Linked DNA regions of Homo sapiens: regions 1, 2 and 3 are each reported to be linked to region 4. Evidence: microRNA targets listed by miRTarBase, many of them from high-throughput screens and not tested one by one. Region 4 holds a microRNA gene; each other region holds the end of a gene's coding sequence. Distances are between the middles of the regions.
Evidence for each region. Region 4 holds the annotated microRNA hsa-miR-877-3p (UCCUCUUCUCCCUCCUCCCAG, at 1,658-1,678, opposite strand). A microRNA usually pairs through its seed, bases 2 to 8, with sites in the 3' UTR of a target mRNA and lowers its output. Matches are read on the target gene's strand: a 7mer-m8 pairs with bases 2 to 8, a 7mer-A1 pairs with bases 2 to 7 and ends in A, and an 8mer does both.

Region 1 (3,355 bases), not on the chromosome of region 4:
AGCCTGGGTCTGGGTCCTACTCATACCCCCTACCCACCCCATGGTCTGCTTCGTTCATTTTCCTTCCACAGGCTGAGCTATTTCTCTGATCCCCTTTTTCCTCCCTTACGGCTCTTTTCCTTAGTCTCTCCTCCGTACCTGCCTCTGCTCCTCTGCCAGCCTTTCCCTCCCCCTGGGTTCCGGCTTCCCGGGGGCTCATCCCCAGTCAGTTGTGCTTCTTGGCCCCTGGAGCTCTGGCTCTGCGTCCCAGGGCTCGGACCCCATGCCCTGCAGCTCCCTTCTCCTCCTTTCCTCCAACCTAGCCCAGTAGTCAGGGCTGGACCTCTGCCTTTCCTGGTGCCACACAGGCTGTGCCTCTTTGTCTCAGCCCTTGGTTCCCTCTCTGTCCCCAGGGCTGGTTTCTTCACAAGCCCTTGTCCTGTCTTCCCCATCTCTGCTTCTTCGCTCAACCTCTCTGGCTCAACCCCCTTTGGTCTTTCTAGGCACAGTCCCCGAGGCCTGCCCCACAGCTCCATATCCTATCCTCTGTCCCCTGGGGGCCTCACTGGGATCTTTGTCCCCCAGAGCCTACACCTAGCACTTTCTGTTGGATACCAGAAGGTCCACTCAAGACTTGGGGTAAGATTCTGAGGGAAAAGACAGTCCTTGGGGTTGGGGCCCCTGGCCCTTCTTAGGCCTCTGGTTTTTATTTATTATTATTATTTTTTAAATAGAGACATGGCTGGGCGCGGTGTCTCACGCCTGTAATCCCAGCACTTTGGGAGGCCGAGGCGGGCAGATCACTTGAGGTCAGGAGTTCGAGACCAGCCTGGCCAACATGGTGAAACCCAGTCTCTACTAAAAATACAAAAATTAGCTGGGCATGGTGGCGCATGACTGTAATTCCAGCTACTTGGGAGGCTGAGGCATGAGAATCATTTGAACCCAGTAGGCAGAGGTTGCCGTGAGCCAAGATCGCGCCACTGCACTCCAGCCTTGGCAATACTCAGTTTCCCCCCCTAAAAAAAAATACAGATGTGATTTTCGCATGTTGCCCAGGCTGGTCTCAAAATCCTGAGTTCAAGGATCCTCCTGCCTCCACCTCCCAAAGTGCTGGGATTACAGGTGTGAGCCACCACACCCAGCTAAGCCTCTGTGGTTTTTGTTTGTTTTTTGTTTTGTTTGAGACGGAGTCTTATTCTGTCACCAGGCTGGAGTGCAGTGGCACGATCTTGGCTCACTGCAATCTCTGCCTCCCACGTTCAAGCAATTCCCCTGCCTCAGCCTCCCAAGTAGCTGGGACTACAGGCACGCGCCACCATGCCTGGTTAATTTTTGTATTTTTAGTAGAGATGGGGTTTCACCATGTTGGCCAGGATGGTCTTGATCTCCTGACCTCGTGATCTGCCCGCCTCGGCCTCCCAAAGTGCTGGGATTACAGGCATGAGCCACTGCGCCCAGCCTAGGCCTCTGGTTTTATCTTGAGTCCCAAAACCATTTTCCCAGACTGAGCCCCCTCAAGCCCATCTCTTAGCTGGGCACCAGAGCTCCTGTCAGTCACAGGCTGGCCTCCCCACTCCCCCAGCTGAACCCTGCTTCTCACTTGAGGTCCTTCCCACCTGTCAGCTGGTGTGGCAAGAACAAAGCACAGAGGCCAAAATAAATGAGGTGCCAGAGTTTGGTTTATTGGCTCATCCAGTGCCAAAGGTCCAATGGGCACCCTCTTCCCAAGGAACCGGGAGCCCCGCGGCTCCTGCATTTCTCTTTCTCCTTCACGTGTTCCTCCTGGCCCTGACTGAAGCCGTGGCAGAAGCTGGGGCGGGTGTGAGCAGAGGCTGGGTTCTGCCAGGGGTCTTAGGGCCCAGTCTGCTTGGTACAGGATGGGGACCCTGGGCAAGAGGGGATGGACCCCAGGGGCAGAGGAGAGGGGCCCACTCAGCAGGGGCCTGTACCAGACAGAGCAGGGGTGGGCCCTGAGGAGCACGGGAGTCCAGCCCAGGGGCACGGTGGCAATGGGGTGACCTAAAAGGGAGCAAGGTCATAGGAGCAGGTGAGAGGCCCCCCAGATCCCCGTTCTCTCATGGGCTGGGTCCTCTGAGGCTCAGAGCCTAGGATGGAGGGTTGAGCAGGGAAAGGGCCAGATGACTGTGGGGCTCAGGGTGGGAGGAGGCGACTGCTGGAGGGACAGTCCTTGACCCAAACTACCCCGAGCCCTAGACCCAGAAAGACACACTCACACAGCCCTGGACCCCCCTTTTTAATGTGGGAACATGTGGCACTCAGCCCCACCCAATGACCAGGAAAAGAGCCCCCAGCTGCAGCTCTGGCCTGGCCATCCTGGTCGCTGAAGCACAGGCCAATCCCTGTCTTCCATCCACAGCTGCACCTGGAGGCCCCACCCAGGGTCCCCAACGTCCTCCCCGTGTGCTCCCTTTCCCCCATGTGCCTTCAGGCCCGTCCTTGGTCCATCTGGGCTAGGACTTCCCCCTCCCTGCTCCCAAACCAAGGCGAGCAGTGGAAACACGACAGGACCTCTGAGAAGCGGATTGCTATGGGCTTCAGCAAGGCACTGGGTGGGTGGGGCAGGGCGGGGCTGCAGCGGAACAGCGGTGGAGGCCGAGCAGTCCCCACCTCCTTGGGTGGCTCAGTCCTCAGCCTCTGGTCCACCCTCTACCCTCAACCCCCACAGCTGGGCCTCCTTCCTCTTTTCCAAGCCCCTTCCAGAAGAGTGGCCACTGGGCAGGCACCGGAAATGGCCATCTGCGGGGCCCAGGGGCCTGAGACACCTAGGCTACTGGCACAGTGTGGAGCAGGGGCTGGGTCTGAGGCCCCTCCTGAGGCTTCATCCTTGCTCTGCAGCCTGCGGGGGTGGAGGGGCTCAAGCTGAGTCGCCCCCGCCAGAGGTCTTCTTCTTGGGCCGGGTCTTCAGTGTCTTGGAAGCCAGTGGCTGTGGAAAGAAGGAGGAAGATGGGGCTCAGCCTGGAGCCGCCACCCCCTGCCTGTTTCCCCAAGCTCTGGCCAGTGCCCTCACCTCAGCTTTGGGCGCTTTTTTGATGGGTTTGGCCCTCTTGGGAGCTTTGTCTCCCATGTCATCCTCAGAAGCCTCTGTCCGGGAATCTGCCGGGTTTGTGCTGGACCTTAGACTCAGGGCAGGGTCATCTCCTGGGTGCAGGGAGAAAAGGAGGTGGGGGAATCTTTCCCATCTGGACTCCTTGCCCTTGGGGCCCCACCCCAACCCCGGGCCCTGCCTGTACCTAAGTCCTCGATGGTGTCCAGGAGGCTGCCAGGGCTGGGTCGGAGGCGGCCGTCAGGCCTCTGCAGGGGCAGTGCGTCCTCGTCCCGGATCAGGGTCAGGTCCTGCATGCTGAAGCTGCGG
Region 2 (3,349 bases), 120 kb from region 4:
GGGACTACAGGCGCACACCACCACGCCCAGCTAATTTTTTTATTTTTACTAAAGACGGGGTTTCACCATGTTGGCCAGGATGGTCTCGATCTCTTGACCTCGTGATCCACCCACCTCGGCCTCCCAAAGTGCTGGGATTATAGGCGTGAGCCACTGTGCCTGGCCTCTAGCAAGAGTATTTCTTTTTTTTTTTTCTTTTTTTTTTTCTTTTGAGATGGAGTCTTGCTCTGTAGCCCAGGCTGGAGTGCAGTGGCGCGATCTCGGCTCACTGCAAGCTCCGCCTCCTGGGTTTTCACGCCATTCTCCTGCCCCAGCCTCCCGAGTAGCTGGGACGACAGGCACCCGTCAGCGCGCCCGGCTAATTTTTTTTTTTTTTTTTTTTTGTATTTTTAGTAGAGACAGGGTTTCACCGTGGTCTTGATCTCCTGACCTCGTGATCCACCCGCCTCAGCCTCCCAAAGTGCTGTGTAATTACAGGCATGAGCCACTGCGCCCGGCCTAGCAAGAGTATTTCATAGACAGTATGCGGTGTGCTTCACTTGGCTTCATATTAGGAGGTATTATTTTAGTGATGGTAAGACTGGTTAGTGGGTCCTGAACCCATTTCTAGGATTCTTTTTCACCTGATTTTGCCTTTGCTCTGTCTTCCCCAGCCTCAGAGAGTTGTGATCACATGCCCTCAGGACTTCCCTCATTGCTCCATTCCACTACGGGTTGGGCTGCCCCTCCTCTCGCCTGAGTTCCTGCTGACTGGAGTGCTGAAGCAGGAAGCCAAGCCAGAGGCCTTTGTCCTCTCCCCTTTGGAGATGTCATCCACCTGAGAACTCCACTACCCTTTTCCCTCCCAGACCACGAATTAGAAGATATGTGGAAGAAAGAACTCAGGGCGTTAGAAAGGATTGGGGTATATTGATACAACTTGTCCTGGAACATGGGTGGGACCAGAAATCTTTATGAATAAATGAAAAGATAAGGGATTTGGAAGCCACAGGTTGTTTTTTGTTTGTTTGTTTGTTTTTTTAATGGCCATTTTATTTTATTTGTATTTATAGTTTTTTATTTGTATAGATTTAGGGGATACAAGATTTCTTACATGCATGTATTAAATGGCCATTTTAAAATTAGCTAGTTTCATGCTCAGATGTCATAAGTGGCAGCTATCTTTAGCCAGACTGTTGCAGTTATTGCTCGATGCCACTCATGGTGTCCTACCTCCTATTTGGAAACCATCTCTATTTTTTTCTTACTGAGATTCTTACTTTGGGGTCAGGAACTTGAAGGGATGCTTGGAGTGAGTAGATTTGAGGGTCCAGTTATGGAGTGCTACTAAAACATTTTCTTCTCTCCTGGCCTCTGGAAGCATCTTTAGCTTTGACTTTGGGCAAGTCTCTGTACTTTTCTGGCCAGCTTTTCCAGGATTTATAAAATTAGAGCTTCGGCTTGACCTCTGTGATAAATAAATATTCACTCTGTGCCTTATGGTGTAGTGTAGTTTTTTAAAATGTCTAGGTCTCAAGACACAAACTTAAAAAAAAAAAAGTCATAGACTTGTATTTAATTCATCATTATCTTCTATTTAGGACAATTTGTATGACATTTCTTAAGATTTTTTTTTTTTTCTTGAGACAGGGTCTCATCTCTGTCACCTAGGCTGGAGTGCAGTGGCACCATCTTGGCTCACTGCAACCTCCACCTCCCAGTTCAAGCAATAGTCCCACCTCAGCCTCCTGAGTAGCTAGGACTGCAGGCACACACCACCATGCCTGGCTAATTTTCTTTTTTTTATTGTTTAGTAGAGACGGGGCTCTACTAAATTTTTGTATTTTTGGTAGAGATGAGGTTTTGTCATGTTGCCCAGGCTGGTCTCTAACTTCTGACCTCAAGTGATCCACCCACCTCAGCCTCCCGAGTAGCTGGGATTACAGGCACATGCCACCACACCCGGCTAATTTTTGTATTTGTAGTAGAGACGGGGTTTCACCATGTTGGCCATGCTGGTCTCGAACTCCTGACCTCAGGTGATCCACCTGTCTTGACTTCCCAAAGTGCTGGGATAACAGGCATGAGCCGCCATGACTGGCCTTTTATCTTTTTGAGTCAAGGTGTCACTCTGTTGCCCAGGCTGAAGTGCAGTGGCTCGATGTCGGCTTACTGCAGCCTTGACCTCCTGGGCTCAAACGATTTTCCTCTCAGCCTCCCAAGTAGCTGGGACCATAGGTGTGTGCAACCATGCCCGATGAATTTTGTATTTTTGGTAGAGACGAGGTTTTGTCATGTTGCCCAAGCTGGTCTCTAACTCGTGACCTCAAGTGAGCCACCCACCTCAGCCTCCAAAAGTGCTGGGATTACAGGCTTGAGCCACCGTGCCCAGCCAGATTTAAATTTTAAAAGTTGGTTGATTACAAGGATGTGGAGAAATTAGAATCCTTATACATTGCTGGTAGGAATGTTAAATGGTTCAGCCTCTGTGGTAAACAGTTTGATGGTTCCTCAAAAAGTTAAACATATGGATGGGCACAGTGGCTCACACATGTAATCCCAGCACTTTGGAGGCCAAGGCTGGCAGATCACTTGAGCTCAGAAGTTCACGGCCAGCCGGGCAACATGACAAAACCTCGTCTCTACCAAAAATACAAAAATTCACTGGGCATGGTGGCACACACCTATGGTCCCAGCTACTTGGGAGGCTAAGAGGAAAATCGTTTGAGCCCAGGAGGTCAAGGCTGCAGTGGGTGGACACGAGCCACTGCACTTCAGCCTGGGCAACAGAGTGAGACCTTGTCTCAAAAAAATAAAAGGCCAGTCACGGCAGCTCATGCCTGTAATCCCAGCACTTTGGGAAGTCAAGACAGGTGGATCACCTGAGGTCAGGAGTTAGAGACCAGCCTGGCCAACATGGTGAAATCCCGTCTCTACTTAAAATACAAAAATTAGCCGGGCGTGGTGGCATGTGCCTGCAATCCCAGCTACTTGGGAGGCTGAGGCAGAAGAATTGCTGGAACCCGGGAAGTGGAGGTTGCAGTGAGCTGAGATCGTGCCACTGCACTCCAGCCTGGGCAACAGAACAAGACTCCATCTAAAAAAAAAAAGGCCAGGCGTGGTGGCTCACCCCTGTAATCCTAGCACTTTGGGAGGCCAAGGTGGGCAGATCACAAGATCAGGAGATTGAGACCATCCTGGCTAACATGGAGAAACCCCGTCTCTACTAAAAATACAAAAAATTAGCTAGGCGTGGTGGCAGGCGCCTGTAGTCCTAGCTACTCGGGAGGCTGAGGCAGGAGAATCGCTTGAACCCGGGAGGTGGAGGTTGCAGTGAGCCAAGACTGCTCCACTGTACTCCAGCCTGGCG
Region 3 (3,355 bases), not on the chromosome of region 4:
CTGGGGACAGCTGCATGCTGCCTGTGGGAGATCTCTGCTAGTTGGATGATGCTGACTGGCTGAGGTGGTGGCCAGGTGCCCGTTAGCCAGTATGCCCTCTGCCTCACCCTGCAGGAGGTGGATGCCAGTGTGGTACGTGAGATCTGCTCCAAGTACATCTATGACCAGTGCCCAGCAGTGGCTGGATATGGTAAGTGGCCTAGGGGGTCTGCTCTTTGTTTATTTCCTCAGGCCGTTCTCTTGGCCTCCCCTTCCACCTCTGCTCCCGCACTGCTGCTCAGCTTACAGAGCAGCCAGTTAAGGCCCCAAGCAGCTCTCCCCAGTCCCCTGGCTGCCAGGGAGTTCTTGCTCAGAAAACCTGTCCCAGCAGTTCCTTGACTGCCTGCCAAGGTGCCTTCATCAATACCCTGCACCCGTCAGGTAACGGGCACCTCCATGTGGGGTGGGGCTTCAAGGGCCAGAACATGAAGGGACAGGCTCAGCACCCCTGGGGGAATGTTCTCTCCTCTCTTTCCACTCAAAGCCTGTCTTGTGCTGCTCTGGGCAGCATCTCCGAGCTGGGTGCGGCACAGGGCCAGGTGTCCCTGTGCAGGCCAGGTACCCCACCCTGACGCTCCACCCTATCCCCACAGGCCCCATTGAGCAGCTCCCAGACTACAACCGGATCCGTAGCGGCATGTTCTGGCTGCGCTTCTAGGCGGGAAGCCTATGTAAGCAAGAGGGCAGGGCCGGGGTTTGTGGTCCCCCCCCCACCACAAACACAGCACTTCGGCTCCTCTAACCTGTGCCACAGGTGACCACCAATAAAATCCTCTGCTGAGAAGTGTGTCATCCCTCTTTTGGCATTGGCATGGAGTCCATGGGGCAGTAGATGGGGAGCAAGGACTTCCCTCTAGTTCTGTGGCTCCTGGATCCTCCTGCCTTCCCACAGGCTGATGTGTCCTCAGCCAGGGGCAAGCGTGGGGGTTGCAGCTGAGGCCGGAAGTCTTTGATGCCTACAGGGAGCTGAGCCCAGATGTTTCCACTCAGCCACTTAGGGGAGTTCCTCAGCCAGCTGGTCCCAAGATTGGGCTGTGGGAGTCCATAGGAAGTGTAAACCCAGCCTTTGCCCCTGTAGGAGTCCCAGCCTGGAATCCCTGCAGGCTCAGGTGGGAAACCCCTCACTGTGGACCTTGTGCCAAGTCACCCCCTGGTGGTCCCTGGTGGACCAGAAGGGGCCAAGGGGTGTCTCCAAGGATGCCTCTTGTGTGTGTTTACTCTGCATTCTGGGAGGAGGATAGCCTGGGGCATAGTGTTCTCATTTGGTTTCTAACTGCTGCCTGGACAAGCAGGGCAGGAATCCTTTGCCTCCGCTGACTCAGGCTCCAAGAATAGCCCTGAGCTCAGTGGGGCCCGAGCCCCCTCCCTCTACTACATTTGTCCCAGGCAAGTCCAGAGCTGCTGGCCTGACAATCCCCTCCCCATTTTCCTGAGGCAGCCAGGACCTGGTACAGCTCTTAGCTACCTAGTCCCTCTGTTATCTCTTTTGGCTCTGGTCCCCATGGTGGGTGCGCAGGTAGGCTGCTCCTCCTGCACCCCCCAGTGCTTCCACAGTCAGGTTCTCTGGGATCCCAGGGGGAAGTTGAAAGCGAGGGGCCCAATTTTCCTTTGAGGAAGTCGCTGCCTGGCAGTCACAAGCAGGGTGCTGGGACAAGGTCTTTTAGAAGATGGCTGTTCAGAAGTCCCCCCAGCATCGTAGCTTGGAAGTAGCCCAAGGAACCCTTGTATCACTATCACCCTGCCCCACTGCCTTTCCCTCACCATTGGTTGCCATACGTTGCCAATTCGGAGACATTTGTTAAGCACCTTCTACGGCCCGGGACTGGGGCATTGCGCAGATCATTCTACTTTGTGAACGGCTGGAGAGAAGATGCTGGGCAGCGCAGAACCCTGACAGGCCCAACCCTGGGTGCTCATGGAGGTGCAACACCCAGGCAGGGGAACAAGTGCCAAGTCTGTTGTCAAGTTTGAGCTCCTGGAGGATGGGGCTTCATTTCTAAGCCCAGCCTGGCCCTTAGAGGCTACAGGTGTGCTGGACACGAGAGCTTGAGTTGCTGGGAGTGGTCTGGTTCTAAGGGACCTTGCGTACCAAGCCAGGGACTCTGGTCTTTACCCTGGAGCCATGCTGGGGAGGTGTGTTGGAGGTTACTGTGAAGAGAAGTGACTTGGTCAGAGTTGAGATTCAGCATGGGGACTCTCAGGCCATATTTCTGTATCAGTCTTGGTGAGCTGTGCTGTGGCAGAACAGAGGTCATGGCCACACGAACTGGAGCCAGCTGTAGGGGACACAAAGAGGACTACATTCCCAGCAGGGCTGGGAGACGCGGAGGCACGAGTGGGTTGGAGGAGGGTAATCTTCCATAGTCCAGTGAGGAGTTTGGTGGTGTCCAGGGTACAGTGGGATGTGTGGGGCTGGGACCTGATAAAGAGGCCCTGGTTGGAAACAGATGGGGTGAGGTAGTGACTGAGGCCAGGGAAGGAAATGTTCAGGGAAAGCTTGGGAGGGAGAAGGATGTGCTCTGGGGGCTCCACCGCCCTGATGGGGTTGCAGGTAGGCACTGGCCTCGGGCTGTGCCCTAGGCTGTGTTCCTCCCAGGAGGCCAGAGCTGGGGCTTCAGAGGGCCACACTCCTGCTCGTGAGTCTCATAGAAGCTCCAGACGTGGAGTCATTCCAACCTTACTCCTACCTTCTCAACAGCCTCTCCCAGCACCCTTTGAGAGACCCTCTCACAGCAGCCTGTCCTTTCTTTTGGAGGCACCTCAATTCTGATGAGGTTTGCCTGAGCACCCACCCTCCCAGCTGGGCCTCCTGTCTCCCCTAAGACTGGCCCACGTGTGCACATATGTCTGTACCGTACTGTCCATGCCACTGGCCTGCTCTTGCCCGCCCTGGCTGCACGGGAGGAGGTGACAGTCTTAGGGGGAAGGGGCTGCCTGTGTGATAACATACCTGGTTCTCTGCAGCCCCCCACCTGGAGCACACCTTGCAGGGATGGGGGGTCCTGGGACATGGCTGAGGAGACCCTGACCTTGGAATAAGGTCATAGCACTATGCCCCAGGATAGTTTGGGGGGTCAGTAATAAGGGATAGAGCCCCAGCCTTCCTTGGGCAATAGGAAAGCAGGCAGCATGGATGGTCTTCACTGCCTCCAGCTCTGGCCACACCAGAGTCCTCGGGCTGTGGAGGAGTCCAGCCAGTGCTGTCCCCATATCTCCCTGTGGATCCCAGGGGAGGCTGTGGGGCCGGGCATATTAGAAGGGGCCCAGCAGCCTTGGTGAGTATAGATGTGCTTTCTGGGCTGCCCAGAGTTATTCA
Region 4 (3,355 bases):
GGCCAGCGTTCCAGAGTCTCCTTCTTCCTCCACTGCCAGGAGAGAACAGTGGCCCCCAGCCCAGAAGTCCCTCAGGTGCTCACCGCCTGCTTGGTGGACTTCCCGCCTGCCTTCAGCTCCTTCAGCTTTTTCTCTTGCTTCTCATACTGTTTCAGCAGTTCTTTCTGCTTCTGCTGGTACATCTTTTTGAAGGTCACTGGGGCAGAAGAGGGGACCAGGCATCAGTGGTTGCTCCTCTTCCCAGCAAAGGGACAACCAGGGACTGGTGGTGATGGGGTAGGCATCACTGTCTGGAATTCTGACAGGATTCAGTTTATCTAAATAGGCCCTCCCACTCAGGCCTCTTTTCGAGGTTCTATCTCTTCCCTGCATCCACACACAATCCTACTTACTGTAATTGCCCCTATAGTAGTGGAGCCGCTGGGCATCGAGGTGGATGATATCAGTGCAGACATCATCCAAGAAGCCCTGGTCATGGGAGACGATCAGCAAGGTCTTCCGCCAGCCCTGGAGGTAGCTGGGTTTCAGAGAACAGGGTGTAAGTGTCACAGTGGTCAAGTGAGAGAGAATTCAGAGGAAGCAGGCAGACAACGGGGGCTGGGAGGGAAAGGGGGGTCTGAATAGAGCTCCACTCACAGGCACAGTGGAGAAGGGCTAAAGGAAAACAGGGCAGGGAGGGAAGGGGAAGAAAGTGCAGAATGGGAACCAATGATGCAAAGGCCGTAACGCACTTATTAAGCCAGATGACAGCGTTGAGGTCCAGGTGGTTGGTGGGCTCATCCAGCATCAGCAGTGTGGGCTCCATGAACAGTGCCCTAGAGGGTGGGTAGCAGAGGGCAGGGTCAGGGAGAGAAAGATCCTTGCTCAGACAACCCCAGAGAAAACTCGGAGATAGAGCCTGAGACCATGAACACTCCTTCCCAAGCTCTCCTCAGAGAAGTTCTCGGGCAGGATACGGTTTAATTTTTTTGAGACAGGGTCTCGCCCTGTTGCCCAGGCTGTCGTGCAGTGGCACAATAAGGGCTCACTGTAGTCTAAATCTCCCAGGTCTAAGTGATACTTCTACTTCAGCCTCCAGAGTAGCTGTGACCACAGCGTGCGCCACCATATCCAGCTGATCTTTAAATTTTTTGTAGAGACAGGGTCTCCCTATGTTGCCCAGGCTAGGATATGTTTTCTTCCCCCTTTTGTGAAGATAGAGTCTCACTATATTGCCCAGGCTGGTCTCAAACTCCTGGGTTGAAGATAATCCTCCTGCCTCTGCCTTCCAAAGTGCTGGGATTACAGGCGTGACCCATTGCACCCAGCTGCAGGGTATGTTGATGAGAACTCACCACCAAGTAGGGAGATAAATAGAGAAAGACCCTAAGTTCTCACAACACAGATAGTAAGGAGGGAGAGGTAAGCCTTGAGCCTCCCTATTGGCCTTGGAAGAATGAGAAGGGAAAGAGGAAAAGGGCCCCGGTGGTCTGAGGCTGGAAGGGAGGGCAGTGAGGTGAATGGCCCACCTGGCCAGGGAGACACGCATGCGCCAGCCCCCTGAGAACTTCTGTGTGGGTCGATTCTGCATTTCAGGGTCAAAGCCCAGGCCAGCCAGGATCCGCCGTGCTTTGGCCTCTGCAGCTGCCGCCCCAGTGGCCCGCAATTCCTCATACACCTGGGAGGAGGGAGAAGAGGACACACGTCTGAGGGTCCCAGGAACCCCCAAGTCTTTGCCCGTGTCCCCTGCGCCATCTCCTCTACCTTCTCTAGCCTCTCAGCAGCTGTGTCATCCCCTTGTTCCAGCTGTCCCTGAAGCCGCCGCTCCTCTTCCAGCAGCTTCAATCGCTTGGTGTCAGCTCGAAGAACAGCCTGGACTGCTGGTGTCTCATCTGCTACCACCTCTGGGAGGCAGAGGGAGAACAGTCAGGCAGCCTCAAGAGCCAAGAGTCTCATCTTTCTTTCCCTTCAATTACATTTCTGTTTTGCCTGACCCTGCCCAGCTCTTTGTACTTGTTCCAAATAAAACACTCTCAAGTTCCTCATTGACCCTCCCCTCCTTTCCTTAGCATCCCTTTCCCGGTCTCCAGTCTCCCTCCACATCCCTTCCAACTCCATAGCCACAATTTCTTCTATTCTTGGCTGGCTGGCTTTTCTACCCAACTGCCCACCCCACCAAGCCCCTTTTCTCCCCAGTGGTCTCACCCTGCTCACACAGCAACACATCAATGTTGGGAGGGATGCTCAGGGCTCGGTTGGCAATGTGCTTGAGGAGTGTGGTCTTGCCCTTGCTGGGGAATAAAAGCTATTAGGACCTGGCCACCACTGAGAAATCTCTTCTTTTCCCTCCAGGCCCTTTTTTGCCTCCAGCTCCCTCCTCTTCTCACCCATTGGGTCCTACCAGCCCGTAGCGGCGGCCGGCTACAATGTACAGGTCTGCATTGACGAACAGCTCCTTGCCATGAGCGGAGATGCTGAACTTCTCCAGCTGCAGCCATCAGGAAAGAGGTGGCAGAGGGAAGGGATGATCACATGAAAATTCTCCCTTTGGGACAGGAGCGGCCACTTTCTCCCTGCAGGGAAGCCTCTGACAAACCGCTACCTCCAGCATAATCCCCTTCCTCTCCCCACAGCCGGTCCCCGCCCTGTTCGCTGCCTGTAATGGGAGCCCCATGCATCCTCAGCTAGTCTAGTCTGTCCCACACTATTTTCTGCCAAGGGTGGACCCCACTTCTACTGGTTTTTCTATCTTCTTGCTCAAGTTGGCAGAACCTAAGGTGTGGAAAATGCCTCCAATCTTTCTTCCCACTGAACTAACCCATTCACACACCACAGCCACTCAGGGAAGATGAGAGAACTGGCTCTTCCCTAGGTAAGTGGACTGGAAGGGGCCCCTTGAGACCTTACCTTGATGTCAGATGCATTTTCTAACATGGCTTGGCGGGAGGACATCTCCGCCTGGGACACGGAGAAGTCATTTTCAGCTGCATTGGCTGCTTTTAATGAAGCCACTTGGCGCTCATACTCCATCTGAGAAGGTAGGAAAAACTACATTTGAAGCCACAGTCTACCAGTTTCCCATCACCATGAAACAGCCCATGCTGGCTGGGCATGCTGGCTCACGCCTGTAATCCCAGCACTCTGGGAGGCTGAGGTAGGTGGATCTCTTGAGCTCAGGAGTTTGAGACCAGCCTGGCCAACATGCTAAAATACTGTCTCTACAAAAAATACAAAAATTAGCCAGGCATGGTGGTGCCACCCATAGTCTCAGCTATTCGGGAGGCTGAGGTGGGAGGATCACTTGAGCCTGGTAGGTTGAGGCTGCAGTGAACAGAGATCACGTCATTGCACTCCAGCCTGAGTAACAGTGTGAGAC

Region 1: the mRNA of REEP2 is a reported target of hsa-miR-877-3p. Seed matches in the 3' UTR shown: 7mer-A1 at 2,680-2,686 and 7mer-m8 at 1,700-1,706.
Region 2: miRTarBase lists MDC1 as a target of hsa-miR-877-3p. The part of its 3' UTR that is shown has no 7-base or 8-base seed match.
Region 3: the mRNA of UQCRC1 is a reported target of hsa-miR-877-3p. The part of its 3' UTR that is shown has no 7-base or 8-base seed match.

The regions. Positions count from the first base shown.
Region 1 is chr5:138,445,254-138,448,608 of GRCh38, reverse strand. It overlaps REEP2 (receptor accessory protein 2), which reads right to left. Exons shown (of 8, transcript NM_001271803.2): 6 at 3,234-3,355; 7 at 3,011-3,141; 8 at 1,644-2,926. The coding sequence ends at 2,858. Among named protein-coding and RNA genes, the nearest start is that of REEP2, 7.9 kb to the right of the region's middle.
Region 2 is chr6:30,697,937-30,701,285 of GRCh38, reverse strand. It overlaps MDC1 (mediator of DNA damage checkpoint 1), which reads left to right. Exons shown (of 15, transcript NM_014641.3): 15 at 654-1,479. The coding sequence ends at 821. Among named protein-coding and RNA genes, the nearest start is that of MDC1-AS1, 3.5 kb to the left of the region's middle. RefSeq lists an enhancer at 265-766.
Region 3 is chr3:48,596,470-48,599,824 of GRCh38, reverse strand. UQCRC1 (ubiquinol-cytochrome c reductase core protein 1) reads left to right here. Exons shown (of 13, transcript NM_003365.3): 12 at 115-190; 13 at 633-823. The coding sequence ends at 697. Among named protein-coding and RNA genes, the nearest start is that of COL7A1, 2.8 kb to the right of the region's middle.
Region 4 is chr6:30,582,720-30,586,074 of GRCh38, reverse strand. MIR877 (microRNA 877) reads right to left here and starts at 1,743; the gene lies at 1,658-1,743. ABCF1 (ATP binding cassette subfamily F member 1) reads right to left here. Exons shown (of 25, transcript NM_001025091.2): 10 at 2,887-3,009; 11 at 2,367-2,467; 12 at 2,185-2,270; 13 at 1,744-1,883; 14 at 1,509-1,657; 15 at 732-815; 16 at 393-517; 17 at 84-196.